Regions from separate parts of the Homo sapiens genome. Here all the other regions are linked to region 2. The links come from fine-mapping of genetic effects on gene expression. A gene starts in region 2. Each other region holds a variant in brackets. All regions are shown on one strand. Distances are between the middles of the regions.

The links. PIP is the estimated chance that this variant, and not a neighbour inherited with it, causes the effect.
Region 1: its variant is fine-mapped to the expression of CCDC3 in fibroblasts (GTEx, PIP above 0.99).
Region 3: its variant is fine-mapped to the expression of CCDC3 in whole blood (TOPMed, PIP 0.99).

Annotation. Positions count from the first base shown.
Region 1 is chr10:12,899,036-12,909,163 of GRCh38, forward strand. All of the region lies in intron 2 of CCDC3 (coiled-coil domain containing 3), which reads right to left. It overlaps LOC105376418 (a long non-coding RNA gene), which reads left to right and starts at 8,764. Exons shown (of 3, transcript XR_001747367.3): 1 at 8,764-8,856; 2 at 9,314-9,368. The variant G/C (reference allele first, on the strand shown) is at 6,004.
Region 2 is chr10:12,996,970-13,007,366 of GRCh38, forward strand. CCDC3 (coiled-coil domain containing 3) reads right to left here and starts at 4,744. Exons shown (of 3, transcript NM_031455.4): 1 at 4,228-4,744; 2 at 1,369-1,543. The coding sequence starts at 4,601. RefSeq lists enhancers at 3,873-4,373, 4,374-4,874.
Region 3 is chr10:12,844,449-12,854,845 of GRCh38, forward strand. No RefSeq gene overlaps it. Among named protein-coding and RNA genes, the nearest start is that of MIR548Q, 120 kb to the left of the region's middle. RefSeq lists an enhancer at 4,709-5,208. The variant G/T (reference allele first, on the strand shown) is at 5,052.

The DNA of each region.
Region 1 (10,128 bases), 98 kb before region 2:
GGAATGGGGGGAGTCAGGTGGCCTAATTAACAAAGGCTGAGCCACTTACATTCGCGAAGGCTCTGATCAATGCTGGCCTGTCCAACTGAAGGGAGGGGTTCCCTTCAGCAAAAACAGACTCTCTTTGCTCCCTTTAGCTGGGCTGGCCAGCACACAGAAGGTGGATAGTTCACAGGAAAGAAAACGCCAGTATCTCTTAAACGCATGAAAAGATGCTTAACCCCACTCATAATAACATAAAAAAAACAAATGAAAGCCATGGTGAATTACTATTTTTCACATATTAGATTGGCAAAATTTCAGAGTCAGGATTTGGGAAAACAGGTGCTATCATACTGTCAGTAGAGTGTTGACATCTATAAAGACCAATCTGGCTCTGTCAAAATAACTGCATATACCCTTTGATCTAGTAATTCTGGGACTATCTCAGATAAATACTCTCATATGTGCAAGCTGCCACATGTGCAAACATTATGGCATTATTATATTAAAAGATTGGGAACAAAAAATACCCATCAAGAGAGGTCTGGTTCCATAAATTATAGTAAATCTACACAATGCAAAGGTTTGCCGTTTTTAAAGGAACAAGACAGCTCCGTGTGAATGGTGGTGTAGCAATGTCTAAGTGGTGTTCATATTGAAAAGCTGTGCAGAACAGTGTGTATAGTGTGATACCAAGAGTGCGAAATACGGTACCCATCTGTGTCCGTTTAAATATGCATACACTATCTCTGGGAGCATATGCAAGAAACGGGTAAGGGTGGCCATATCCGGGGAGCAGAGAAGACAGGAAGAAGAAGATTCATTTTCACTTTTGTACTTTTTGAATTTTGTATTTCATAGGTTTGGCTGTGTCCCCACCCAAATCTCATCTTGAATTCTAGCTCTTATAATCTCCATGTGTCATGGGAGGGACCCAGTGGGAAGTAATGAAATCATGAAGGTGGGTTTTTCCTGTGCTGTTCTTCTAATAGTGAATAAGTCTCAAGAGATCGGATGGTTTTAGAAAGGGCAGTTCCCCTGAACACTCTATTGCCTGCCATCATGTCAGACATGACTTTGAGCCTATTCACCTCCACCATGATTGTGAGACCTCCCCAGGCATGTGGAATTGTGAGTCCATTAAACCTTTCCTTTATAAGTTACCCAGTCTCAGGTATGTCTTTATTAGCAGTGTGAGAACGGATTAATACAGTAATAAGGCTGGCATTTCCTTTATATGTGTGTGTGAGCATATATATAAAAAGAGGTATTCTCCAATCTTTCTCCTTTCTCCCATTTTACCTCATCAGAAGCTACATTCCCAAAGAAAGACTTGAGCCTCAACTTTCCTCTGCTTAGAAATCTCCATCATTGAGCCGGGCTGGGTGTGGTGGCTCACGCCTGTAATCCCAGCACTTTAGGAGGCTGAGGTGGGCGGATCACAAGGTCAGGAGATCGAGACCATCCTGGCTAACAGGGTGAAACCCCATTTCTACTAAAAATACAAAAAAAAAAAAAAAAAAAAAAGCCGGGCGTCGTGGCGGGTGCCTGTAGTCCCAGCTACTCGGGAGGCTGAGGCAGGAGAATGGCGTGAACCTGGGAGGCGGAGCTTGCAGTGAGCCGAGATCGCGCCACTGCACTCCAGCCTGGGTGACAAAGAGACACTCCATCTCAAAAAAAAAAAAAAAAAAACAAACTCCATCGAGCCCCACTATCTACACTGCAATATGATGGTGATGGGTGAAGAGCTCAGACCCTGAGGCCAGGCTGCTTTGGTTTCCAGTCCTGCCTCTTCCACTGACGAGTGACCTGAGACCTTGGGCAAGCTTCCTAGGCTCAGAGTAGTGGACTCTGGTCTGTATTAGCCAGAACCCACTTCAGTACTAAAGGATTGATTTCCCCAGCTTCTTGGAGTGCTGCAGACCGATAGCCGATAGCCCTAAGCTGAGTCTCTCTCCGGAAACTGACCCTGACCTAAGAGAACTGCCCAAGGTCACGCCCCCTTCTTTGGAGCACCTGTATCCAAGGACTGGCTGACACCAGGGTATGAAGACCAAGGCCCCTCATCCCAACTTGGAAGATCTCTGAAGGGCGGTCCCCATTGCTGGGTGTCCTGGGGTAGGCTACAGCCTTTGTTGAGACTGGATCACAGGCTGATGTCTGCCTCCGCCTGTTCTTGTTCTTTTCTACCCAAGGTATTAATCCCAGGAGCATTCTTGAAAACACCACCTATACCTCTTACATTATTTTTTCTTTTCTTTTCTTTTTTTGAGATGGAGTCTTGCTGTGTCGCCAGGCTGGAGTGCAGTGGCGTGATCTTGGCTCACTGCAATCCTCCACCTCACGGGTTCAAGCGATTCTCCTGCCTCAGCCTCCTGAGTAGTAGCTGGGACTACAGGCACGAGCCACCAAGCCCGGCTCATTTTTTGGTATTTTTTGTAGAGATGGGGTTTCACCATATTGGCCAGGATGGTCTCGATTTCCTGACCTCGTGATCTGCCCGCCTCGGCCTCCCAAAGTGCTGGGAGTACAGGCGTAAGTCACTGCACCTGGCCCACCTGCACCTCTTATTCCAAAGTCTACGTCTCAGGGAACCTGGCCACTCTCAGTGGGATGATCATGGTTGTTGGGAGGATTTCATGAGTTTTACTTGAAAAATGTTTAGAACCATGCCCTCGTGCACAGTAAACGTTCACTAACTGTTAGCCGTGATTATAGGATAGAGTCAAATCTCCTAAAGCCTTTAACTTTTGTGATTGGACCCGGCCAACATCTCCAGTCTTAGTGTTCTTCCTTCTGTTCCCACATTTTATACCCAAGGCACACTGGGTCCCACCCAGCTCTTCCTCCAACACATCAGCGCTTTCTCATCCCAGAGGCTCTTCCTCCCGCCTGGAGCACTGTTCTCCCCATCTCCGCCTGGCCATCTTGGAAGCCCTCTGTGGTCCCCTTTCACGATGCTTTCCACCGGGTCTCCCTGTGTATGTAATGTGTCCCCCTCCCCAGTCTCCATGGCACGCCGTAGCTATTCACACCACACGCCAAGTACCTGGTGGCACTAGGAGAATGTGACTCAAGGGCCTTGACATTCACAAGTCACAAGCTCCTGAAGGCCTGGTTCACAATGGTTTTTGCATCCTTGCTGCCCTGGCCTTTTTAGGCCTACAGTTAAGAAAAAGGAGCCAAGTGGAATGTTCCAATAATACCTGTCATTTAATGAGAAACTCTGGGCTCCCGGGGAAGCTGCTGTTACAGGGGAGACCATATGTGCAACACTGCCCTCTTCTGGCCAAAATGAGACCCCCTCAAAAAGATGAGAAGGTGGGCATGAGAAATTCCCGGGAGAACTGACAGTATTTCTATTGTCTTGTGGATAGATATTAGCTATGGAACTTAGGCTTTAATATGGCCAAGTACCAGGCTGAGCACTGTATAATGACACTCCCTCATTAAGTCATGAGTTTTCTACAAGTTATGGTAGATTCTTCAACCAAGAACAAGACAAAAAAGTCCAAAGTCCATGACAACAAGAGGATTGGGGTTTTGGAAGACTGCTTGCTCGAATTTTCAAAGAACAGAACCCAATAGTGGCTGGAACATAACATCAAAGAAGAGTTGAAGGCAGGCTCGATGGCGGTGTTCAGAAGCTGCGTTTAAAAATCGTGAAAAATAGAGGAGGATGCTGGGACTTGAGTGATCACGTGTTAAGAGTTCTTTCTAAGACACAACACTCTTCACAGTTAGCCCTCGACCATGGACACAGCTGTTCTCCAGGCTAGCAAGAGGATGAATTTCACCTCCAGCAAGACTTAGAGCCCAGACAAAAGGAAGACCTTGACCCAGGCTGTAAAAACCAAGATGGAACAGAGGGACGCCTTGAAGTGCATCTGTGTGTGTATCCGGAGTGGGAGGATCATTGAGATGGGAATGATAAATTCCCAAGCAAAGGTGAATGTGAAAAGCGTGGATGGGATGAGAGTTCCTTGGTGAACATGTCATTCTTTGGTCCTCGTGGCCTCTAATATGGGTAGGGTTTCAGTAGGAGCAAAAGACATCAAAGGACTCTAGTAACGTATCCAAGACAACCAACATAGCACAGCCATGACCCAGGACTGCTTAGCAGGCAGGTCTGTATCTCTGCAGCAAAGTGGGCCATGCCTCTGAGTAGGGGGAGCCTGTGTCATGTGAATTGAGGCTAACGCCATAAAATAACCAAGCCACTGCTGATGGAGCCGATGGAGCCCTCTGGCATCCCAGCTATCACCTCAAAAGAAAATCCTGTGTTTAAGAAAGCAAGAATTTCTAGAGGAGAGCTGTGCTTTCCAAAATGTGTGTTTCTTTAAGAAATGCTTTCTTTGGAATGCTTTCCAAATGAAATCCATCTCCTTTTAAAACTGCTTTAAAAAGAAAAAAAGGTCCAGATACGCTATTTGCTCAATTTGCTTTGTGGTATTTTTTGGTAAACTGAGAAGAGCAGGGAAAGGCCAGGCCAAGCTGAAACAGGTACTGCCATATTTTCTTTGAAGAAGAACCAAAGAGAATGTCCTACAGGGCAGCCCCAAAGCAACAGACTCCTCATAGGCAGGCCCCGCTCAGGCCTGCAGCACTCAGCGCCTCCCAGGTGCTTGGGTACCTCTGGCATTTGCCTGCCCAGAGCTTTTCTCTGGAAGTTTCCATGTGGCCAATAGGATGCCTGCCTAAGGGCAGATGGGAAGATTGCCCTGGGAGCCTGCTCTTTTATTTTCGAAAAGACAAAAGTTAGGCTGGGATATCCATACTTCCTTATCTGTCTAAAATAACACTTTTTAAAACCATCAAAGCACACTGATTGTAGAAAAAACATTTTTTAAAAATATGGGACCAACAAAAGGAAAATCAAAATCATCAATGATTCTATGGTACAGAGATAATCACTGTGGACATTGTAACATTTCTTCCTAGTATTGTTCCTACGGGTATAAATAGATAACTATTTCAAAGAAAACTGGAGTCCTGCTGTTACTCAGTTTTCTGTTCTAATTTTTTCCCCTTTTCATTTTATCATGATTCTTTTCCAGTCATCGGTCTGTACACTTCCCGTGAGTATTTCATGGGAGCTGGAGGAGGGAGCATCTGGTGGTTCCACTTGGCCACGAGGACTAACTCACTAGGCAAGACTGGCTCACTAGGCCGGGCATGGTGGCTCTCGCCTGTAATCCCAGCACTTTGCGAGGCTGAGGTGGGAGGACTGCGTGAGCCTAGGAGTTTGAGACCAGCCTGGGAAACACAGGGAGACCCCATCTCTAAAAAATAAAAATAAAAAATAGCCCGGCATAGTGGTGCACATCTGTGGTCCCAGCTACTTGGGAGGCTGAAGCTAGAGGATCACTTGAGCCTGGGAGGTGGAGGCTGCTGTGAGCCATGATTGCACCACTACACTCCAGCCTAAGTTACAGAGCAAAAGCCAGTCTTAAAAAAAAAAAAAAAAAAAAAAAGACTGGCTCAGGCTCACTAGTTATTAATCCTCCTCTATCCTTAGGACCACAGGCCAATGGGGAGGGATGGCAAGATGGGGTGCTCATGCATCCATGAGATTGAGTGGCCTTAATGTGGCCTTTTTGGGTCACCTGTCTCCAGTGACGGGACAAATCCGTGGAGAGCTCTTTACCCGGAGCCTCCACCTGAAGTCTTCCTATAAGTTTCCTGGTTTCTCCGGGAAGCTCAGGTGTGAGAAAGTTTCACCATCAACATCTTGAGCAGTTAAGGAAGTATATCCATGATACCATCTAGAATCACCTCTCATTTCCAAAGCGTTTTGGCTTCCATATGTTCATTCATTCTGGCAAGAAGCATTTATTGTGTGCCTGGCACTGTATGGTGCAGAAAGTCCCCCCCAGTTATTCTGGAATATAGCAAGTTTGTATCAAGCTAAACAAAAAGACAGTATGTTTTTTTAAAAAAATATCTCATGGCACCAGACATGCCAAAGAGTCACCGAGAGGATTCTTGCCTTTCACAGCTGCTTTTAATTTAAATAACCAC[G/C]TATAAAGACAAGACAAAGTGTACTTTCTGAAACGTAAAAATATAAAGGAAGAACAGTCCAAAAGCAACAACACAGACAAATAGCTTGCTTTTTTAACACTTTGTTCCTGTTCTCGGGATTCAAAAATGAGAAGGAAGAAAAAAGAAAACCCAGAGCAGTGATCAGGAAACGATGGCCTATGGGCCACATCTGGCCCCCTGCCTGTTTTTGTGAATAAAGTTTTATTAGACCACAGCTATACTCATCAGTTTATGTTTTGTTTGTGGCAGCTGTTGTGCTGCAATGGCAGAGGTGAGTAGCTGCAACGGCTGCTTCCACAAAACCTAAAATCTGGCCCTTTACAAGGAAAAGATGCTGAATCTTAACCTCAAGAGGGGCTCAAGGCAAACGCAGGTGGGAATAGGATGGGTTTGGAGGGCAGCTGGTCTACAGGCAAAGAATGGATGAAGGGCAAAGGGTTTGAAAAAAACACCTGGTGCCAGAGACGCCCAAGAACCTCACTGTCCACATCTCACCCCTTTCCCACCACTTTCAGACATTGTTTTGTGATGATGGCTTTGGCTGCCAGGTCATGGTTCAAGGTCTCCACGATCCTTGTCAAAGGTCCTATTGACTCCATCTCAATGTACTGCAGCCAATTTCAAACCTCCAGGTGGAAATTAACAAACCAGCTCTTCCCAGCACGACTGACTGTTTCTAAAATGCATCCCTTGACATTGGACAGATGAGCCTAGAGCAAGCCCCTGTGCCCTGCTTGGGAACATCAACTGTCAGTGTGGATAAGGGTCTGCAGGGGATTGCTCTAGTCCCGCAGTTGGCCGGTTAATTCTGAAAAGTTTACATGGCGCTGTGTTTTCTGGCCCCGTAGAGGGCAGAGGCCAAGATTCCTTCATTATCCACATGATTCAGGGACTCTGGGGAGCTTGATGGGAAGCCCATGGGCCTTTACCCACGTCCTCCGTAGTGCCTTTTGGCGTTTTCCATAAACAGGTTGGAAATGCAGCTTTGTTCTCCCATTCTTTAAAAGCCTTTAGAGATAGAGATCTATGAGGAGGTGGGCAGAGAGCCACGTCCACGCAGAACGGTTTCCTGAATGACTCGACAGGACCACACTGGAGGATGCCCAGAGCTGCTGAAAAAACTCCCAAAGCTGGGAAGTGACAGCAGGGAAGTTCTTCTGAGGACTGTCTGGAGGGACAACCTGAGATGACTGCATGTGGCTTGGCAGCTCGTTCTCTGCTCCACCCAAAGTCAAAAGAGCTGCTTCCCTGGTGCCAGGAGCCCAAACAAAGGGAACGCTCATGCCCAGGCTGTGGCGGGAGGGGAGGCAAATGAAGAGGAAGGCGGAGATGGAGTCAGGGAAGAGGCTGGGGCAGGAGTTTCCTTTCCATGAGGCAGCACCCGGCCTAGCTGGGCAGGGCCACAGCAGCCTCTCCTGCGTCCGCTTCCTGATGCTGCCGGGGGAGGAGGTAGCCGGGCAGTGTGGGTAGGAAGGGGTTTTGGACTCAGGTAACTCTGGGACTGAATTCTGGCTTAAACGATTCCACACTCCACGTACCCAGATACCTGTTAGAGTCCACAGGTCAGGGAGCCCACTCAGCCCCACCATCGGACAGTGGGGTCTTGCTTAAGTCAATGAACCTGTCTTGGCTCAGTCTCCTCATGTATACAATGGGCCTAATAAAGCCTCTTCCCTAGAACTGCTCTGAAGATGAAATCAGATGATAAGGGTAAAGCATCTGATGTAGCACCTGGTGTAGGGTGAAGGACACACAAAGCTTTTGTGATTGTCGTTCGCCCGAGCTTGACCTTTGCTGCTGGAACTCCTCCTCCCTCAGCATCCTAGGTCCTCTTGAGTGTCTGTGATTTTTTGCATCTAATTCCTTCCACTAAATCTCTGCTCACACCTTAACCAAACGATGACATTCTACTTCTTCTCCAAGTCTTGGTTCAAGAGTCACCTCCTCTGTGATGCCTTCCTGGTTCCTCCTGAAGTCTTCCTATAAGGAAGAGCCCTGTCATCTTTTCCTGGTTCCATTGTCAAGTTTATCGCATGGGGCTCTAACTGTTGGCTAGCCTGACTCTCTCCCAGACTGAGTCCCTTGAACACAAGGGCTCCATCTTTTCATTCTTGCATCCAGCACTTAGCATGCAGTAAGCACTTAATAAATGGATGAAGGGATGCAGGTTGAAATAGAAGCAAGTCATTTTCAATGACTCGAAAATGAAAAACCGGTGAAGAAGCTGGAGCTACCTTTTAATGCTGGAGCTGGATTCACCATCTTCCCTGTGAAGCCCCATTTCCCAGGAATAAAGTTAGTTTTGCCGGGTGCAGTGGCTCACGCCTGTAATCCCAGCACTTTGGGAGGCTGAGGTGGGAGGATCACTTGAGGTCAGGAGTTTGAGACCAGCCTGGCCAACATGGCAAAACCCCATCTCTACTAAAAATAGAAAAATTAGCCAGGTGTGGTGGTGCACACCTATACTCCCAGCTACGCGGGAGGCTGAGGCAGGAGAATCGCTTGACCCGAGAGGAGGAGTTGGCAGTGAGCTGAGATCGCACCACTGCACTCCAGCCTGGGTGACAGAGCAAGACTCTGTCTCAAAGAAAAAGAAAAAAGAAGATTAGTTTTGACGATTTGTTCTGGTAAGATCTGGGAGCTGGATTTAAGGAGCCCTGAACTTGGTGCCTTTTCCTTACTTTCCTTTTCTCCCTGCCCCCACCTGCCCGCCCCCTGTTGACTAGCTTATTTTGTACATCCCCATACCAAATCCCTTAAGAATTGCAGGATGTGACGCAGATGAGGAAAAATCCATTCTAGAGGGGAGATGCTAGATGATGGAAAACCTGGGTAAGTGCAGGAGAAGGGATCACATTTCAGAAGCTGGGGCCAGGGCCAGCCCTGCTGAGAGTTGGAGCGCAGTAGCAGCTGGATGTGGGAAGCAGGGGGACAAGATCTTAAATGGCCAGGGGTTAAGTCCTGCTGATGGCCCATGATTAAAATCAGGAAACATTGAGCTGTCTTGGGTGAATTGCCTGCCATCAGAGGAAAGGGGAGTTTATTAGCTAAGTTCTACTACAGAGATCATAAAGCCACGTCTTCAGATAAATCTACTACAAAGGTTTCCCAAAATGGAGTCTCCAGGACACTCGTCTCATTAGATGTTTACGTGGGGACCAAAAGGGTGGTTCTGGTTAAAAAAGTTTCAGAAATGCTGCATATTATGGCTTCCTCTGTGATGTAACACTTAGTATCAGCTGTGCACATTGGTCCTGCATTAAACCTCTCTAACTTTGTTTTACCCCAGATCTCATCGGTCTCTGGTGGAGATCTCCAACATGCAGCAAGAATAGACTACAAGAGTGAGTGTCAAGGCTGCTCAGTTACGAGCGGTCTCCTGTGTTTCTCCCAGGGAGTTTTGCAAACATTTTATCTAGTCTGTGATACAAAGAAGCCTGGGAAACACTAGGTCATGGAATACTGATTTCAACTCTAAATCCTTTTTCTAGAACTACCAAGGGGTAGAAGGGTGCTGAAATCACAGATTCTTGGCTAAGAACTGTGATTTTTCTTTTTTTTTTTTTTTGAGACAGAGTTTCCCTCTGTTGCCTATGCTGGAGTGCAGAGGTGTGATCTCGGCTCCCAGGTTCAAGCAATTCTCCTGCCTCAGCCTCCCAAGTAGCTGGAACTACAAGTGCATGCCACCATGCCCGGCTACTTTTTGTATTTTTAGCAGAGACAGGGTTTCACTGTGTTGGCCAGGCTGGTTTCAAACTCCTGACCTCGTGGTCCATCCGCCTTGGCCTCCCAAAGTGCTTGGGTTTACAGGTGTGGACCACGGCGCCTGGCCAGAACTGTGATTTCTTAATGCTGACCACTGTCCATGGTGAGTGCAGAGAAGGTGTCCAGGTGTAGTGGGAAGGAAGATGTTCTACTTTTATTTTCAGGATCCCAGAAAATCCACATCACAGTGGATGGGGCTCTGGTCTAGATGCAAGGCTCCATCTTCCTGGTATCCTTGGACACTCATGGTCCTGTGAGTTACAGCATCTGAAAGACATCTTCCAACCTTGGATGCCTCTGCTTGTTTAGTCAAAGCCTCCTTGGGCACCTCAGTCCTTA
Region 2 (10,397 bases):
TACTGTGCTCACTACCTGGGTGCGAAACGATTGGTATACCAAACCCCAGTGGCACGCAATTTACCCACGTCATAAACCTACACACGTACCCCCTGAACCTAAAATAAAAGTTGGAAGGAAAACAAAATAAAAAAGACAATAAGGGGATTCGGAAGAACAAGGCAGCTACCCTAGGCCATCCCACCAGACAAGAGAAAGACACTTCCCTCAAACCCTTCTTGATGGGTGGAAAGAAGGGAGTCTCTTAACATGTGCAAATGGGTTCGTTAATGGAAAAAAAAAAAAAAAGTCCTTATTCCATGTGATACCCACATCAGAACTCTCTCTCCAGCAGTGTGTCACATTGCCCTAAAAATGTCTTCAATCGGGGACCGGAAGAGATGGGTCACAGCCCCAGAGGCCTAGACTGGCCTGGCCCCCACTATCATCCCAACTTGGTTGTGGCAAAGCCCATTGCTTTGGAAGAGTGATGATCATCAAAATGTTCCTCCAACTCTGGCATTTGGCCCAGATCGGAAGACTCTTTTATATTTTCATTCCCAACCCTTACGATCCCGACCCTTACATTTTGCAACCACCTTGGCCATCCTGCACCTCTATGTCTTACCAACTATAGTTAAGAATCACAGAAGTGGTAGCTATGATAGCAATTTCATTTCATTTCCCTCAGCACTTTTCCTTTCCTCTAAGACAATTTCTTAGGGCCCTGTGCTGTCCATGACAATCATACACAGTCAGGAACAGTCGTAACGGCTCACATGTATTGAGCACTTACTCTTTTAAGCATTACGCTAACGGATTTACATAATTATAGTTTTTACATATTTAAATCATATTGCATTAGCCCTCTGACATAGATCAGGGGTGTCCAATCTTTTGGGCCCCATTGGAAGAAGAATTGTCTTGGGCCACACATAAAATACACTAACACTAACGATAGCTGATAAGCAAAAAAAAATTGCAGAAAAATCTCGTAATGTTCTAAGAAAGTTTACAAATTTGTGTTGGGCCACATTCAAACTGTCCTGGGCTGCAGGTTGGACAAGCCTGATATAGATGCTACTATTGTCCCTGTTCTGTAGAAGAGGAAACTGAGGCTCAGCATGCCAATCTTCATCTCATCTTGTTCTCATACTTTGGGAAGAACTCCTTATCCAACAGTAAAGCTTCAGGGATCCAAAGTTTATGAATGGTCTTTTTTAACAGCTGGGAGGTAAGGAGGGATAGCAGGAGAGAGAGAGGGCATACGCTAATACTCTCTGATCTGGGCTTTTGGAAGAGTATTCTTGATTCCTTTGGTCACAAAATTCACACAAGGTGTAGCTATACTATTGTTTTGCTGTGGCACAGGATTTAGCCAATTCTTACCCTACTGTCTTCCTGGATTTCCCAGTCACTGGAGAAAGTCGCCAGCTGCTGCCCTTGCGAACAGTTTGAAAACTGGAAAAGGCTAGAAAACATCCTTCTGTTCTCTTGAGTGTCTGGGAAGATGGCATCTTGGAAATTGACTCCGTGAGGCAAGAGGTTATAATTTTCATCCATCCTAATGGAGGAAAAAAAGGCAGACATGTAGGCTAGACAGTCAAGGGTGTACCAGCTCCAATCCAGAGTCACAGACAACTGCAACGGGCTTGCCAATTTCACATCAATGTCTGGCATGGCTCTCATTAGAGGAGTTACTACTTCTAATTATTTCTTTGTCTCACGCTACATCAGTCTATCCTTAAGGTTTTCAAAAAGATGAGTTTGAGCAAAGTATGGAGAAAACTATGTGTATGGTGCCTGTTTGTCTATTTGTGTTGTCTTCCAAGTCCCCCAAGGGGTCTTCCTTCTCAAAGAGTGTTCCTTATTTCCTGGTGAAAAAAAGGCCAGCTGTCATCACCTATGTTTAAGTTCTGTCTTTGCTATTTATCTTCTGTATGACATGAAACAAATGTCTTAACTCCTCTAAGCTTCAGTATTCTAATCTGCAAAAAGAATATAGTACTGGCTAGGTGCGGTGGCTCACACCTGTAACCCCAGCACTTTGGGAGGCCAAGGCAGGTGGATCACCTAAGGTCAGGAGTTCGAGACCAGCCTGGCCAACACAGTGAAACCCTGTCTCTACTAAAAATACAAAAATTAGCTGGGCACGGTGGCACACACCTGTAATCCCAGTTACTCAGAAGGCTGAGGCAGGAGAATCACTTGAACCTAGGAGGCGGAGGATGCAGTGAGCAGAGATTGCACCATTGCACTCCAGCCTGGGTGACAAGAGTGAGACGCCATCTCAAAAAAAGAACATATATAAGTAAAAAATAGTACCTACTTTTCTGGTGATGTCATAAGCATTGCATCAAAAACCTAAGTAAATGAAGCACTTGGTACAAAGTAAATGCAGTATGCATGTTAGTGAACACATTTAAAGGCCTAGCATTAATCAATTAGAATGATTCTTTAAAATGTCACAAAAAGAAAGAGATGAAAGTTACACTCCAGTCTACAGAAAACACGTAGGGCTCACCAGCAAGTCTCCGTTGCCACCCTCACCCCTGACAGTGACCACAGGTCCAGTTTCATCTCAGTGGGTCCCAGAATAACAGAGAAGGAATGATTTGTGTGTAGTTGTTAACACACTCCAAGGCAAGACAGCCCTGTGAAATGAAAATGTCAGACTACTGTCTTTGTATTTCTGCCCTAACTTTTGTAAACATGGTAGAGCAAAAAAGATGAGAATTGGCTGAGCACCACGGAACTATTGGACAAACTGTATTTCATGATAAAAATTTCTTTAAAAAGCCTGCTCAAACACTTGGGCTCTTTTTCCTTTGGAGAACAAAGTTCTGGTTTTGAATAGTTTTATAGATGGTTTCTCAGTATCTTTCCTAATTAAAAACATGAAACCCTAAGTTTCTCTGTATCGAGAAGGGCACTCTCTCAGTCTCACTGGCTTTATTTAGAAACTACACTTCTCTGGAAATACATACATATATATAAAAACTTAATCTAGCTGAACCACTCAAGCCAACACAAAGCAAGACGTGTTTTTTAAACTTAGATATTCTGGCTTCAATATGGAAAACATGTGTTGCCATGCACTTACAAACACCACTTTGTAGAACTGTTTTCTTTCTCAGAGAAATGCGAGCTAAAAGTGAATCTGCAGACCCACGTCAGCCTCATTCCAAATATCCTCAGTGCTACTTCCCAGACTGGGAAAACGAACTACAACCGATCACCCCAACAGTGGATTAATTTACTATCTTGATAGATAGGTTAGATTCCATTTTGATGTTTTTCTCAGTTGTTTTATATCACTCTCCAAATTCCAACTGAAGCTAACCAAAGAATTTAGAGTTCTACCTGGCACTCTCTATTCAAATTTCAGAAGAATTCAGTAGTCAATGAGAATTGACTGAATTCTTAGGCAGATGCATTCCATCTTGACCACAGGCCAAGTTCTGAAGTTCATGGAACTTCAGAAGATTCCAGTGGTCTATAATCAAAGAGGACCTCCTGGCCTGGTTCACCTCTCCACTCCTCAAAGCATTGCTACCCAGGATTTTACCAGCAGCAGAACCCCAAGCCCTAGTAAACCTTTGCTATTTCAAAGAACCTGGCAGCTGATATGAGACAGTGAAGCAATCCCGGGCTACATTCCACACCATTCACATCTTGGCATTTGAGCAAATGAGGAAGAGGAGAGAGTGGACAGCTGGTCAACTTCTAACCTGCACCAGGTGCTTTGCATGAGTTACGTTCCTCACTCAACCAGCCCTGTCTCTCACTTTACACAGGTGAGGCTATGGAAGTTCTTGAGAAGGTGTCAAGAAATGCGCTCAGAATCACGGTTAGGAAGGGCAGAGCCAAAATGCCAGCCACAGACTGATTTCAAAGATTGTTTTTCTCACCGTCCCAATCTACTCCCACTGAGGCCAGTTTAAAAACCCAAGTCAAAGGGACTGTTGGAGGGCGCTTTGAGCTTCTGTCTGCAATGCTCTTCTGTGTACAAGGCACAGAAACCTTCCCTGTCTTTTAAACCGCCTTAACCAGGGGTAGTCAGGATGTCTGTAGAGACGTCAGACGGAGCAAGAAAGATCCAAGAAGGCAAGGGGTAGGCGCCCCAGGGGCATTCTCACTTGACACCGACAGGCTGCCCGGGGAGTTACCGGCCTGGCTCTAGGTAACGGCGACCTCGGGAGGTGGCGCAGAGAGAGAGAGAGGTGGCGGCGGCGCCGCCGGGCTCACCTGAGGAAGAAGAAATAGGAGTAGTCCTGGACCACGGTGTGGGAGTGGCACGAGAAGTAGCCCAGGCCGGTGAGGTTGAGCCTGGAGCCGGCGGGCACCTCCAGCATGCTGCCCCACGCCTGGTCGCACAGCATCTCGACCTCGGCCGAGTAGAAGAGGCCCCCCTGGCCGGCGTGGTACTGCCAGGGCAGGTGGTTGTAGAGGCCGGGCGCCTCGGGGTGCAGCGCCAGCACCCTGGCGTACACGATGGTCTCGGCCAGCTCGGCGCGGCAGCCCTCGCTCAGGGGCCTCCACTCGGAGGGCAGCTGGCAGGCGCGCGCGGGCGCTGGGGGACCCGCCAGGCAGAGCGCGGCGAGCAGCAGCTGGCGCAGCATGCCGGGCCCTCCCGGGGCGCACGGGGCGGCGGCGGGGAGCCCGGGGAGCCCGCCGGCCCGGGAAGGGCAGCCCTGGGCGCTCGGCTGCTCGGGCCGCTCCCGGGAGCTGAGCGCACCGCTGTCTCCGCCACGGGGCTCGGCATGCCCGGCCCTGGCGCGCCACGCTTTAAAAGGGTCCCGGGGACTGGACGCGCCGGGCGCCCGCCTCCCGCCCTGCCCCCTGCGGCTGGGGCGTGGGCGGGGGAGGGGCGGGGAGTCGGGCGGGTCCCGGCGCCGGCTGGGGCGGGGACCAGGGACTCGGAGAACGCGGGGACGCCGGGACCCAGCCCTGAATTGGGGACAGTGGCCCAGCAATCTCCTGGCGCCCCACGATGGACGTGGTCCGAGCTTGCCAGGCGTAAAGCCTGTTTGCAAACGCAAGGCATTCATTAAAGAATGACTCTTAATTTGCACGATTACTGCCTAAGTTTTTACATTTTCTCTACATTTCAGAGTAAAAATACATAGAAACCAAATCTGACTTTATATTCCCAGAGATTAGGAAATTCAGTGTGGGCTGAGATCTCGTGCTCTCTCAGATTTGCTAGTTATTTAATGAAGATCTTAGAAAAGCTTTGATAAAAGATTCCAAAAAGCAATCATTTGGCCCTGATTTTCTTGGTTTCCATAATCCCTGATTCCATTTTCTAAACACTGTACACCTGAGAAATACATTCAGAAGTAAATCCCAAACAGCTTTTCACATCAGTGAGTGAATTTGAGGATACTGACTCCACAGTTCCATCTTTATCTCTAAAGGCAACAGGTTTTTTGTTTTGTTTTTTGTTTTTTTCTTGAGACAAGGTCTATATCTGTCACCCAGGCTGGAGTACAGTGGCTCCATCAGGGCTCACTGCAGCCTCGACCTCCCCTGGGCTCAGGTGATCCTCCCAGGTCAGTCTCCCAAGTAGCTGGGAATACAAGCACACTGCCACCCCGGATAATTTTTTGTTTTTAGTAGAGACAGGCTATGTTGCTCAGGCTGGTCTCAAACTCCTGGGCTCAATCGATCCTCCCACCTCAGCCTCCCAAAGTGCTGAACTTTCAGGCGTGAGCCCCCACATCCACCCTGAATATTTAAATTATGCAATTTCATAATGCTATTAGTCTCCCAGGGCTGCCATAATAAAATACTCTAGTCTGGTGGCTTAAATAACAGACCTTACTTTCTCAGAGTTTTGGAGGCAGGAAGTCCAAGATTAAAGTGCTAGGGTTGGTTACTGGTGAGGCCTCTCTTCCTGGCTTACAGACGGCCACCTTCTCACTGTGTCCTCACGTGGCCTTCTCTCTGTGTGTGATGGAGAAAGAGTGAGCCCTGGTCTCTTCCTCTTCTAACAAGGTCACTAGTCCTATGGGGTTATCACCCCACCCTTATGTCCTCATTTAATTACCTGCCTGAAGACCCTATTTCCAAATACAGTCACATTAGGGAGTTAGCACTTCAACATATGAATTTGGAGGTGGGAGGGGAGACATAATTCAGTCTATATGAGCTATTTAGCAGGTGTTCTGCAGGTTTGCTAGAGAAAGAGAGCAGGGATCCCAAATGGTTTATATTCCTGGCAGGCAGACTCACAGCACACACTGCCAAGTTATAATAAGAATTGCTAAACCTTAGTCATTGTTGACCATGGGCCAATCACTGTTGTAAGGACTGTACATATGTCATCTTAATAAATTCTCCAAACAATATTCTGAAGTAGATATAACTATTATCCTCATTTTACAGATAACAGGCACAGAGAAGTTAATTGACACCAAAGATCACAAAGCTACAAGTTGACCAAGCTAGGATTCAGCTCCCAGCAATCAGACTCCAGATCCATGTACTTAACTACAACACTAGAATAGGGCCAAATATAGGAAATGCTCTAAAGACACAGGTCGGCCCTTTAACCAGGATATACACAGAGCAAATTAAGAGAAAACCTTAGCAGAGTCACCAATGATGGCTCAAGGAGTGTGCAACTGACCTAACATTAATTTTGTATGACCCAGAATCCCTGCTCTATTTTAGTCCTATACTGTAACTCATCAGATAAGATAGTAAGAAAGTTTTTCTTACTAACTGCATCTTCAAGTGTCTTGAAGGCCTGGAAAAGATTTGTCTACCCCAAAAGACTGTAAGGCCCTCTCTTTTCTTTCCACATAGGTGAGCAAATAAATAAAAATCAGCAAACATGGCTGTTTTTTCTCTTGTTGTATAAACTTGACAGAATCAAAACTCTTCCAATACTTCCCACAGTGTATTTTGCAGAAGTGAGCACCTGCAAGAAATCGTCCTCATGGATTCAGCAGACACATCAGTCATGCTTTTCTCCCCTGTAAGATCTGGCAGAGTGCCTCACTGATTGGGTTTCTCTTCCTGATTGAGCCATTGCAGTGTACCGTAGTGAGCAGTTCCTCTTTGGGGACTAAGACTTCCAAACAAGCAGAGCTCAAGGTAGCCAGGAGGGGAAACAAAACTTCTGTGAGTGAATTATTGGGTTTAATAGTGACATGAGCCACTTCCATCTCTTGATTCCGAGACCTATATGTCCTGGCTGTGGGGTGGATAGTACCGTATATGTATGTTCTGTTTCAAAGCACACACAGTAAGTACACTTTAAGATGGACTCCATCATTTCAGTGTGGTGACTCCCAACTGACACTATAATTAAGTCTTCACTAAACTGTTACATCCTTCAAAATTTGTCCAGTTGCTTCCAGGTGATGGGACATGTGGTAAAACCAGTTAATTCTATGGCCTTGAGACCACTGCTGCACTTCATTGCTGTGAAAGAAGCAATGCTGTGGGAATCATTGATCAGAAACATCACTATGGGAAATTCCATGATGGTGGATAAGGTGCCCCATGAGTCCATAGATGGTGCTACTGGCAGAAGCATTATGGCAGGGAAGGCATATCCGTGTCCAGAATGTGTCTATTTCAGTGAGGACAAATCTCTGACCCCCACCCCCCACCCCAAGATGGAAAAGGTCCGATGGAATCAACCTGCCACCAGGTGGCTGACTAGTTCCCCAGGTGAATGGGGCCACATTAGGGGATCCATGTTGGCCTCTATTGTTGACATATTAGGCTCTCAGCAGTAGTAGTAGTGTTAGCTAGGCCAGCCGTGGTAAGAGGAAGTCCACATTGTTGAGGCAATGAATACCCTCTGTTTCTGCCACCATGGCCACTCTGTTTATGGGCTCATTGAGTAAGCAGTAGAGTGGCCAAGAAAAGAGACTGACAGACACCCACTGAGTACATCAATTGCCCACCTAATCACTAAGAACTTCCCCTCCACTGAATGCACTTTGGTCATCATTCACATGGGTCACAAATATCTTCACACTTGGTAACCGTTATAAGATGTCCATTCATTCACCTCTTCCCAAGATGTCCTTGTCATCAATCTTCTGATCCTATTTCTTTCAAGTCCCTAACCATCAACCAAACCACTAGCAACTGCCCACGAATCAGTGTCCATGTGTACTCCCAGCCCTCTCTTAGTCTAGACATAGCATACAACAAAATCTGCTGCTCAAAGTTCTATCGACTGGGAGAATTTTTCTTCACCAGTGTCCTTCAGGATCACCCATGAGTGAAACTGAGTAATATCTGTGTGTAATACAGAAAAATCTTCAAACCAGTCTTGTTATTTCTTCCTCATTCAACTGGAGTATCTTCAAGAGGCCATAAACCATATGAGTGGAAGAGGCAACGTACCTTCAGAGTCAAAGGAATCTAAGCCACTTGCCCATGCAACTTGCTTGCACCATCTGGACCTGCCCAATCCCAGTCTCTTGGATACCATTTCCATTTAATGGTAGATTGCTGCTGCGCACACATGGCCTTATGTCTAGGAGGGTCATACAACACCCAATTCATGATGAGAAGTTCAGATTACATAGTCACCCAGCATACCATGGTTAGGCATTCAATCTCTACCACAGCCTAGTAGCAAGGGAGATGCTATTTTTCAAAAGGCAAACAGCCATATCCAGAATAAGGCATAGATGTGCACTAAAACCCCAGAGTTTTGTGCTGTGATTTTCCTTCTGGTGCTTTCTAAAGACTCCATACAACATTCCTGTTTGCCATAAATACTTTATCACTGGACCTTCTAGATAATAAGGCTCAAGTGATACAGTGACTTGTACACAGCCTGAACTTGCTGCAGAGACTTCTCAGAACTTGCTCAACACCACTTGAAACTGGCAGCCTTAGAGATAACTCTATAGATGAATTCAAAAAGCATTTTTAAATGTGGCATATGTTCCCTCCTAAATACAAAAAGGCTGAACATACATTCTCCCTCTTTTCCCATTTAGATCATCCAAGGACCAGCAACTTTCCTTTTGCCTTGGAGGAGTGACAATTGAGCCCCCAGAAACCATACTGAGGTGGCAGGTCCCTGAATTTTTGTGGGGCCTATCTCCCACCTTATATCTTACCAAGGCCTCTAAAGTATATGGTGTTTCATGAACATCAGATCCATTCATCATACTGTCATCCATGAGGTAATCCAATGTGATGTTTTGTGGAACGTCAAGACAATCAACATCTCTGCAGAATAAATGTGATAGAGAGCAGGAGAATTGACATAGCCTGAGGCAAAACTGAAAGTATACTGTTAGCCCTGACAGGTAAATGCAAACCGTTGCTGGCAATCCTTGCAAATCAGTGAGGAGAAAAGGGCAGGTCAGTAGCTACGAAGCAAATGCTGGGAGACATATCAATTTGCTCCAGGAAAGATACTACATCTAGGACAGCAGCTGGAATTTTAGCCACCACCTCATTAAGTTCATAGTAGTCTTCAGTCATTCTTCAAGACCCATGCAACTTTTGCACAGCCCAACTGATGAGTTCAGTGGAGATGTGATAACTATCGCCACTTCTTTCAAGTCTTTGATGGCAGCATGGATTTTTGCAATCCCCTCAGGGATGCAATATTGCTTCTGATTTATTCTCTTGGTAGAAATGAAAGTTCTAGGAGCTTCTGCTTAGTCCTTCCAACAATAAAAGCCATCACCCATGGGTCAGAGAGAAAATGTGGGGGTTTGTCAGTTGTCAACTTTGGTCCCTTTGGAGAAGTCTTAGAGGAGGATTTATGGTGTGTGCATGTGGCAATGGTGCAGGGTCCTTCCTCAAGGGCACCTGGCTTACCTTTCAGTCAAAAGGCTCTGTGTCTATAAATTTACTTATGTCTAAAAGCTAGGTAAGGGGCTTCAGTTCCTCTCTGTGGGAATTCAAGTCAGGTTTTCAGCTACCAGAGTTTTTGCTGTTACATAGATCAGGCACTACACCCACAGGTTGCCCACATATTTACTTTCAAGAGACATCATGATCAACTATCCACTGTCAAAGATCTCTGCCAATCGAAACATTCTGATTACTAGTATGCCCCTCCCGACCTTTACGGTAGAGGTACTTACCTTCCCTTTGGCAGTTAAGTGCTGCCGTTTGACCCCTTTTCGATGGCATCATCCTGTACTAGAGTCATAACTTTTCTAGAAAGAGGAGAAACCACAGAGATGTTCAAGGATGCAGTACTTCCTTCATTAATATATTTCTCATTGCTGTCGTGAAGGAAATACCTCTGGGTCATCTTGTGGAATGTAGTTGGCAGGTGGCTGTGCAGGTCACACATCGAGTATTCAGTTCAACCTTCCTAATTCCCTAAGCCTTTGGATTCCCTCCTTTACATTGTTTCAGGGAAGCTCTGGCATCTCAGCCAGCATGGAATTCCTTCAAATTGTAGTCAACCAATC
Region 3 (10,397 bases), 150 kb before region 2:
AAAGAGCAAGACTCTGTCTCAAAAAAAAAATCTGAGGACCTCCTACGTGTCAGGCAGGCCCTGTCCTAGGCACTGAGGATGGATACGGCAGTGGGGAACACACACACCCATCCCCCACCTCACTTCAGGTCTTCCAGACCTTTTCTATATGTTGGAGCCGTAGACACCATTAGAAGAGCTGGACTTTTGCGACCACCATCCTGTACAAAGATTGTTTCTAGGTTGAAGAAGCTGTAAGTGAGCTTTCTACTTTCCAGAGGCAGGCAGTACCAAACAGCCTTTCCCAGACGGGGGACCCCATGAATCTCTCACCAGAGACCCCACACAGGCACCTGGGTTAGAGTGCATGGAAGAGTTCTGTGGAAACGCTGTCTGGGATCTAACACCACCAGACATTGTCCAGCCATGTCTCATCACAAGCCAGAAACTCCCCCTGCTCCTCAAGCTGTCCCTCCCCCACATCAGCCACAGAGGGGGAGACTGGAGAGACTGGGTGGTGGTCCCGGATGTGCCACTAGCGTGCTATGTGATCTTGCATAGTTCATTCCAACTTTGTCCTTCTGTGTCTCACTCATATAATGAGGGGTTTGACAACAAGATCCCTGAGGTACCTGCTTGCTCTTTAAAATTCTCTGGCACCCAGACACAGCCCAAGTTCCAGTGAAAACTGCACTGAGGTCCAAACCCCTGCTGCATTTTGCTCTTTGCCTGGAAAAGGGTGTTGCCGTGTCAGCCATACCCTGTTTACTTCCTGAGAAACATGGAGAAAAGTCTCCCTTGAATCTGTGAATTTCAGGTTTTTTCAGAGTTGGATCCCAGCCCGGAGCAGGGAAGAGCGTGAGGTAAAATTGTTCGAGTCGTCCAGAAATGCACATTTCCTGCAGTTTCTTTCCAAGTCTGGTGCTAAATGAACAAGCTCGAATGTGAACATGAACAAGGATGACTCAGGCGTAGAGAATGTTGGTAGCACGACACTGGCTGTAAATAATGGCAATGAAGGGACTTTTCTGACCCATTTGTTGACAAAAGATGGTAAGAGGTATTAATCTAGTTCAGGGATATCTAAACAGTTTTTGTTGTGCATCCTTATGATAAAATATTTTTGAACATTGTGCTCTGAATAGATGAATATTTATATTTCTGGAAATTATAGGCATATACTATACCTACTTATGAACATATAAAACATACACAAAGAAAGAAAATTAGAAGGACAAGACCAAGATAAAAGAAACTGTTCAGTAGAACAAAATGTTTATCTTTGTTACATTCATGTCATCTTGGGTTTTGTTATTTTTATGTTTTTGTTTGTTTGTTTCTTTGTTTTTTTGAGACAGACTCTTACTCTGTCGCGCAGGCTGAGTACAGCGGCGCAGTCTCGGCTCACTGCAACCTCCGCCTCCTGGGTTCAAGTGATTCTTCCACCTCAGCCTCCTGAGTAGTTGGGATTATAGGCAAGTTTTGTTATTTTTTTAATCGTGATTTAAGACTTTGTAATACAGCAATTTGAAAACCTGATTTCAAGTCTAGTTTACTTAAATTTTTTTTTTTTTAAGAGACGAGGTTGTTCTGTCACCCAGGCTGGAGTGTAGTGGTGCAATTATAGATCACTGTAGCCTCGAACTCCTGGGCTCAAGTGATTCTCCCATCTCAGCCTCCCTCATAACTGAGAATACAGTTGTGCATCGCCACACCAGCTACCTTCTTGGGTTTTGTGCTGTTGTAATGGAAAAAGTCATAACGCAAAAATACATATATCTAAATGAAAGAAGTCTATTTTGGAGGTGCTTTTCATTAGGGACATGAGCATATGCAAATTGGAAACTGACAAGGTTGAAGGTAGGGATTTCACAGGTGCTTCCTTCCTTCTCTCCCATCTCCTCCATCTCCTCCTCCTACCCTTCCTGCCAAGGATCTTTGTACCCCTCTAAATCGTGTTACATAAACAAGTAACTGTGACCCATGTTCAAACAGTTCCTCCAAAGACCCTATTTCTCTGTAACACAATGAGTTAATGTTTATATTTAACTCTTAATAAAGACCTAAATTTTTTGAAAACTCATAAATGAATGGAAAATATATACCAGTGTCTTTGTTTTGGTTAGGCAGTCTTAGGAGCTTGGAGCTTCAGACCGCTAGAGCCATGGTTCTCAAATTCTTGATGAATATGGCCCCTTTCCATGGAACACAGCATCTTAGTGATTGGAACTAACAAAAGACACTGCAAAAAGTTTTCAAAATGAATTATTAAAGTGCATCTGTATCTCTGTAATAATTGAGTAATAGTAATACATGCATGTGATATATTTCTGTGTTTCTTTCAATTTTTTTTTTAGAGATGGGGTCTTGCTATGTTGCCCAGGCTCGTCTTGAACTTCTGGACTCAAGCTATCTTCCTGCCTCTGTCTCCCAAGAGGCTGGGATTACAGGCACATGCCACTGTGTCTGGCTTGTATGTGATATATTTCATCAATCCTCAGATAAGACTTGGGATACTTAGGGATTAGGCAACCCTGGCAACCACTCCACAACCCTAGACCATAACCAAGATGCCTTGAAGACACTCCCCTAGTGGGAGGGAAAGGACTTAGGAATGAATATCCAGACCTCTTAGTGATTGTTTTGAAAACTCAAACCTATTACTTGGTGACCAACCTTATACTAACCTAAGAGCCATATGCTAAGGCAGGCATGGTGAAATTGTCAATCTTTTTCTAGCTCCAGTCTGCATGACGATTGATGCTTGTGACCTCCTAGGGCAAAAAGTGAAATGAGGAGAGAAAATGAAGAGATGCAGATAAAATGCTTACACAGTAAAAGACCCATCTGCGGGGTAACTGAGGCGCAAGGATGTCCGCTAGTGCAGTGCTTCTAAACTTAAACCTACATGGAAAATACCTGTGTATCTTGATAAAATGCAGATTATGACTCAACAGATCTGGGCTGGGGCCTGACATTCTGCATTTCTAGAAGCTCCCAGGAGATGCAGACGCTGCTAGTCCAAGACCATATGCCCTGAGTAAGGAGGCCCTATCCCGTGTGCATTCTCAACTGGGAGTCCAGTCTTCCTTGAGCCTGTCTCCTTTTGCTGACAGCAACCAACGGGTGTGAGATCTAAGCAGAGGCTGGCTTTGGTGAGCTACAGGGAGTAGCTAATGATCAGATTAGCTGCCCAGCCAGATAGCAGCACCTCAGTGTCACTTCCAGCCTAATGTCATGGCACCTTTGGGTTAAGTTTCTTTCAGTCTCATCCTCTCTGGGGACGGACGGAGCAGTCAAGCCAAGGAGGAGCGGTTCTCGTGGGTCCCACAGCGCCCCCCGCTGGCAGGAGGACACTCCAACGGGAGACCAGTCTTAGGGTAGAGGCGCAGCTGAGTTTCTGGCTGAAGATGAGGGCTGGAAGCAGGTGAAGCCAGGGAAGCAGCCCCTCGGCATGGGCTGTTGGCACCTAGCACGCCCACTGAGGCTCCTCATGGAACGGAAGTCCCTCTGTGACTGGAGCTACCAGTGTCACAGCTGTAGCAGGGACAAGCGGCTCAGGAGTGCCCAGTAGGGCTGGTTCCAGCAGAATCTGCACCTGTAAGGTAAGACCGGGTGGCCATTTCTTTCAGGCCACCATGGCTTCTCCCCATCATCTGGTTTGAGGAAATCTAATTTCTGTGATTCCAAGGTGATCTCCTGGCCCCTACTAACTTCTATTGTCTTAAAAAGACAGGCGGGCGCAGTGGCTCACACCTGTAATCCCAGCCCTTTGGGAGGCTGAGGTGGGCAGATCACTTGAGGTCAGGAGTTCGAGACCAGCCTGGCCAACATGGCGAAACCCCGTTTCTACTGAAAATACAAAAATTAGCTGGGTGTGGTGGCGGGCATCTATAATCCCAGCTACTTGGGAGGCTGAGGCAGGAGGATCACTTGAACCCAGGAGATGGAGGTTGCAGTGAGCCAGACCGCGCTGCTGCACTCCAGCCTGGGCAACAGAGCAAGACTCTGCCTCAAAAAAAAAAAAAAAAAGAGAGAGAAAGATGAGTCTATTCTCTGGCAGGGCCTCCCTTTAGTAGTGATCCCCTCCACTGCAGGGGGGAAGACTGTAGACATTAACCTTGGTTAGATCAGAGCAAGACACCCCCACACCCCAGAGACAAAGGGGTGTGAACCAGTCTTTCTTAGGGGAAATGAGATGGTTTTGAAAGTTTCCTAAAATAGCTGTGAATTAGCTTGTGATGCTCTTAAAAGCGTCCTCCCACAGATTCCCACGTGGAGCGAATGTGCTAGGGAATCATTTCAGGTTAATTTCCCTGTTCAGGAAGAACAGGTGTTCTCTTGTCCCCTTCTCACCCTGGCTGTTTGGCTACAAATCTAAATAGTGGAGTGGGAATGGGAGGGGCACGGCAGCAGGGACCGTGACAATTTTGCCCACCATCATCGTGTCCCCCACGTACAGGTCAGCATTGGGTAACTATTTTTTGGATGAATTACTGAGTCAGGGGATGGAATGGTGGCAGCGGCTCTTACCCGGCCGGCCTCTGCCAGTCCCAGATCATGGATGAAGACAGCTGATCCCCCCCAATGCCGCTCACCTCTGGGCACTTCTTTCCAAAGCCCAGGTGTGTGGGTGCTGGCTGTCCCAGCTGCAGCTCCTGTTCCCTTTGTCTAAGCTCTGCTCCCCTGCTGACCACTCAAGGCCTTAAACTTGAAAAGGTCTTGGTTCTGAGCTGAGCCTCCCATCCTAGCATTGAAGAGCCACAGTGGCTTCTGGGAAATGGCTGGAACCCACTTAGCACCACCGGGGACAGGATTCTGCCAGCCTGTCCTGGACCTTGCCTGAGCATCAGTGAAGCCCACCCCACACCAGGACAGACCAGTCTTGAGGTTTGGCCATGCCTGGCCACTAGCAGTCTTTATAACCGCTTCAAGGGGCAGAGTTCCAAGTCGATTTAATCAGAAAGACTTGCAGATGTTTCCTTTCAGCCGGCTGATTGTGTGCATTCAGGATGCCTAGCAGAACGCCGGGGGCTTTGGGGACCCAATTAAGAACACGCAGGGTTTGGGGG[G/T]ATCCGGTGTCTTCATCCGGGATCTGGGACTGACAGGGGCTGCTGGTTAAGAGCCGCTGCCCCTGTTCCATTCACTGGCTCAGTAATTCCTCCAAGAGATAGTTAGCTAGTGCTGACCTGCACACCGGGGACATGATGGTGGTGAGCAAGGGGGAGGGCGAGCTGGAACAGAGGCTGTGCGGGCAAGGAGAGGCGTGGGAGAGGAGGCACTTCCTGCCAACCTCTCGAGACTTGTTGGTGATTTTGAGGCCCTGAGGAGGGTCTATTCCTCTGAGAATGAAACGCAGTAATGAAAAGCCGTGAATCAGGACCTGGCTCCAGGAGGGATGTGTTCTGGCAGATCTCTCAGGCCTGAGCGGCGGGCTGGTGAGAGCAGAAAGAGAAGCTGTTCATGGTTATCACAGAAAGCCATCTAGCACACATTCTCCCCACCGTGCCTCGCCCATCCCTCCCTCCCTCCTTCCCCCCATGCTTCCTGGTGGGAATTCATCTTTGCTCTGGAACCCTGTGCTGAGCTGAGCTCAGGCATGAAACTCACATTCAACCTGCCAGATGCTGTGTTTATTCTGGCACCAACCATGAGCTCAGGGAGCCTCCTTGTCTGCTTCTCTGTGGCCCAAACACCTGCCAGCTACATGGCTATGTGAAGGCAAACCTGAAGCTAAGGCCCACAGCCCTGTGGCAGGGTTAGCAAGGTGGCCCAGCAGCCAGCCTACCTGTGCGCTACTTCCCATCTGCTCCCAGTTCGGGAGGGAGGAGAGGTGGTGAGGGGAGGACCCTTCTCATTTCTTGTTTTAACTCCTCCAATTTGGCTGAGTCTTCTCAAGGGCTTAGCTCAGTGGTATCAGCCTTGGCTGCACACTGGAATCGCCTGTGTGGTCCCCTGGTTCTGATTGTATCTGTCTGGGTGCGCCCTGGACATTGGAATATCTAAGCTTCTGCAGGTGATTCTAATGTACAGCAAAAATGGATACCACTGGTCACTGAAGTATTTATACATCTGACGAGGACTAAATAGCCTGACCCTAGAGCGCCCACCTTCCTCATCTGGCTTATTCAAAGCGGGAATGACCTGGAGAAGAAAGATTTAATTAGGATGTTTCTGTCTATGGCTCTGCAGAAACTGTCTTTGTTTTTTCTCCATGTTCTTTAAGGGAAAATCCACCTGCTGATTGCTGTCTTCTAAGCAGGGAATTTTATTTTAAATTATAAAACAAAATTTATCTGGCCGGGCGCGGTGGCTCACGCCTGTAATCCCAACACTTTGGGAGGCCAAGGCGGGTGGGTCACGAGGTCAGGAGATCGAGACCATCCTGGCTAACACGGTGAAACCCCGTCTCTACTAAAAATACAAAAAAAAAATTAGCCGGGCGTGGTGGTGGGCGCCTGTAGTACCAGTTACTCGGGAGGCTGAGGCCGGAGAATGGTGTGAACCTGGGAGGCGGAGCTTGCAGTGAGCCGAGATCGCACCACTGCACTCTAGCCTGGGTGACAGAGCGTGACTCCATCTCAAAAAAAAAAAAAAAAAATTATTTTAATTAACTTTAAAATATAGAATGATAGAATTGAGAATATGTTGAAAAACTAGCCACTCCTGATTTCTTTCTTTTTTAAATTGTTATTTTTATTTTACATTCAAGGGGGTACATGTGTAGGTTTGTTACAAGGGTAAATTGTGTGATACTGAGGTTCTGTTGATCCCGTCACCCAGGTGGCAAACACTGTACCCGGTAGGAGATTTTTCAGCCCTGACCTCCCTCTCTCCTTTTGAAGTCCCTAGTATCTGCTGTTCCCATCTTTATGTCCACATGTACCCAAGATTTAGCTCCTACTTAAAAGTGAGAACATGCAGTGTTTGGTTTTCTGTTCGTGTGTTAATTTGTTTAGGATAATGGCCTTCAGCTGCATCCATGTTGCCGCAAAGGGCATGATTTCATTCTTTCTTATGGCTGCGTAGTATTCCATGGTGTATATATACCACACTTCCTCTATCCAGTCTACCATTGATGGACACCTAGGTTGATTCCATGTCTTTGTTGCTATTGTGAATAGTTGAGCAGGGAATTTTAAAACACTGTTGACAGAAATTATGTATCCCAGATAGGGTTGTCAGATAACTAATACAGGGTGCCAAGTTAAATATGATTTGAAAATAATCAATGAAATTTTTTAGCATATCCCATGCAATATGTGGGATATACTTATACTAAAACATTATTTAAATTTAACTAGGCATTCTATATTTTTATTTGATAAATCTGGTGACTGTAATAGATATGTTAATCAGAATAATATTATTTTGTTACATGTGACAAAAACCCTACTCAAACTCAAAGTGGAGAAAATAAATTTATTGGTTTACATCACTGAAAAGTCCATGTATTTAGGCTGTATTTAGATGTATCCAGGGATCTCTCTTCATCTCTTAGTTCTTCTTTTCGCCATCCAGGTCTTTCCAAATATACGGCAAGAAGGCCTCTAGTGGCTCAGGCCACAAGGCTCTAAGGGCTTATGACCCCAGTAGAAGAGAGAAAATCTCTCCTACAAAAACAGGGAAGACTGGTTTTTCTGGCTTGAGTCACATGTCTACTCCTGAACCACTGTGCCCAAGGAAATTGGGTACAGTAGATCTCCCATATCCATGGATTCCGCATCCCTGAATTCAACCAACTGCTGATTGAACATATTTGGGGGAGAGCTGGGTGCGGTGGCTCACGCCTGTAATCTCAGCACTTTGGGAGGCCAAGGCGGGCGGATCACCTGAGGTCAGGAGTTCGAGACCAGCCTGGCTAACATGGTGAAACCCCATTTCTGCTAAAAATACAAAAAGCTTAGCCAGGCATGGTGGTGTGCGCCTGTAATCCCAGCTACTTGGGAGGCTGAGGCAGAAGAATGGCATGAACCCAGGAGGCGGAGGTTGCAGTGAGCCGTTATCACACCATTGCACTCTAGCTTGGGCAACAAGAGCGAAACTCCATCTCAAAAAAAAACAAATTAAAATATTTGGGGGGGAAGGAATTCCACAAAGTTCCAAAAAGCAAAACTTGAATTTGTACACACTGAGTACTACATTGAATCCATGTGAATGAAGAGATGTGTAGGCATTGTATTAGGTATTGTAAGTAATCTAGAGATGATTTAAGGCATACAGGAGTATGTGTGTAGGTTATATGCAAATACTATGTCATCTTACATCAGAGACTTGAGTATCCTTGAATTTTGGTGTCTGTGGTGGGGAGGGGGTGGGACCTGGAACCAATCCCCAGATCACATAGTCAGCATTGTAATAGACCAGGGTGTGGGTGGTTTTCTAAGGGAAAGAATTTTGAGCAACATATGTCTACTACATCCTACAGAAGAAGAGGAGATGCTCTTCTTACTCATCTCAAACATGTGCACAAGTATTGCCTAAGAAAAGGAAAATCTAAATTAGGAACATCTGTGAGATCAGAGTGTGTGGCTCCCCAGGGGAGTCTATAATGGACCTGCGTGGTTTCTCAGTTCTTCTAGCAGGAGAGCACCCAACACCTCACCCAGCTGCTGACCCAGTGAAGTCGTCTGCATGTAGAAGTCTTTTTTTGAGATGGAGTTTTGCTCTTGTTGCCCTGGCTGGAGTGCAATGGCACCATCTCGGTTCACTGCAACCTCCACCTCCCAGGTTCAAGCAATTCTTTTGCCTCAGCCTCCCAAGTAGCTGGGATCACAGGCACCCGCCACCACACCAGGCTAATCTTGTATTTTTAGTAGAGACAGAGGTGCACCATGTTGGTCTTGAACTCCTGACCTCAGGTGATCTGCCTACATCGGCCTCCCAAAGTGCTATAATTACAGGCATGAGCCACCGCACCTGGCCACAACTTTTTTTTTTGACGGAGTCTCGCTCTTTCACCCAGGCTGGAGTGCAGTGGCGCTATCTCAGCTCACTGCAAGCTCCGACTCCCGGATTCATGCCATTCTCCTGCCTCACCCTCCCGAGTAGCTGGGACTACAGGTGCCCGCTACCATGCCTGGCTATGGTTTTTTTTTGTATTTTTAGTAGAGACGGGGTTTCACCATGTTAGCCAGGATGGTCTTGATCTCCTGACCTCGTGATCTACCCGTCTTGGCCTCCCAAAGTGCTGGGATTATAGGTGTGAGCCACTGTGCCTGGCCTTTTTTTTTTTTTTTAATATATATATGTATGTATTTTCATGTTTATTTCTTTTATATATATATATATTTTATTATACTTTAAGTTCTAGGGTACATGTGCACAATGTGCAGGTTTGTTACATATGTATACATGTGCCATGTTGGTGTGCTGCACCCGTTAACTCGTCATTTACATTAGGTATATCTCCTAATGCTGTCCCTCCCCCATCCCCCAACCCCACAACAGGCCCCAGTGTGTGATGTTCCCCTTCCTGTGTCCAAGTGTTCTCATTGTTCAATTCCCAGCTATGAGTGAGAACATGCGGTGTTTGGTTTTTTGTCCTTGCGATAGTTTGCTGAGAATGATGGTTTCCAGCTTCATGCACATTTACACCATGGAATACTATGCAGCCTTTTTTTTTTTTTTAAAGAGAGATAGGAAGCTAGGCATGGTGGCACTTGCCTGTAATCCTAGCTACTTGGGAGGCTGAAGCACGAGAATCACTTGAAACCGGGAGGCAGAAGTTGCAGTGAACAAAGATTATGCCGCTGCACTCCAGCCTGGGGGACAGAGTGAGACTCTGTCTCAAAAAATAATAATAATAAAAATAAAGACAAACAGGGTCTCACTCTATCCCCCAGGCTGAGTGCAGTGGCACAATCATAGCTCACTGCAGCCTTGAACTCCTGGGCTCAAGTGATCCTCCTGCCTCAGCCTCTTGAGTAGTTGGGACTACAGGTGGGCGCCACCATGCCCAGCTAGTTTTTTTGTATTCTATTGTTGAGATGGGCTCTCCCTGTGTTGCCCAGGCTAGTCTCCAGCTCCTCAAACAATCCTCCCATTTTGGCTTCCCAAAGCGCTGGGGTTTCAGGTGTGAGCCACTGCAACTTGCCGCTTTGTTGAATGTTCTAAGTTGCTGAAAGGATGAGGGAGACATCTCCATTATCCTTTAATCTCAGTTAAGTAAGTCAGCATTCCTACTTAACATACATCTCAATCAGGGGTATATAGCAGACTCAACTTTTTCAGAACAAAGTTGCCTGTCTCATACTTCAAGACATTCTGATTGAGAAGGTAGAGATGGAGGGCTAGATTGGAATATGTATATTTTGGTTTTTAAAGAACCCCACAAATATTTCTCATAAACTGCTATCTACTTCCCACAGTTATTTCAGAAATTAGTTCTGAAATACTTCTCTCCTATTGCTTAGAAT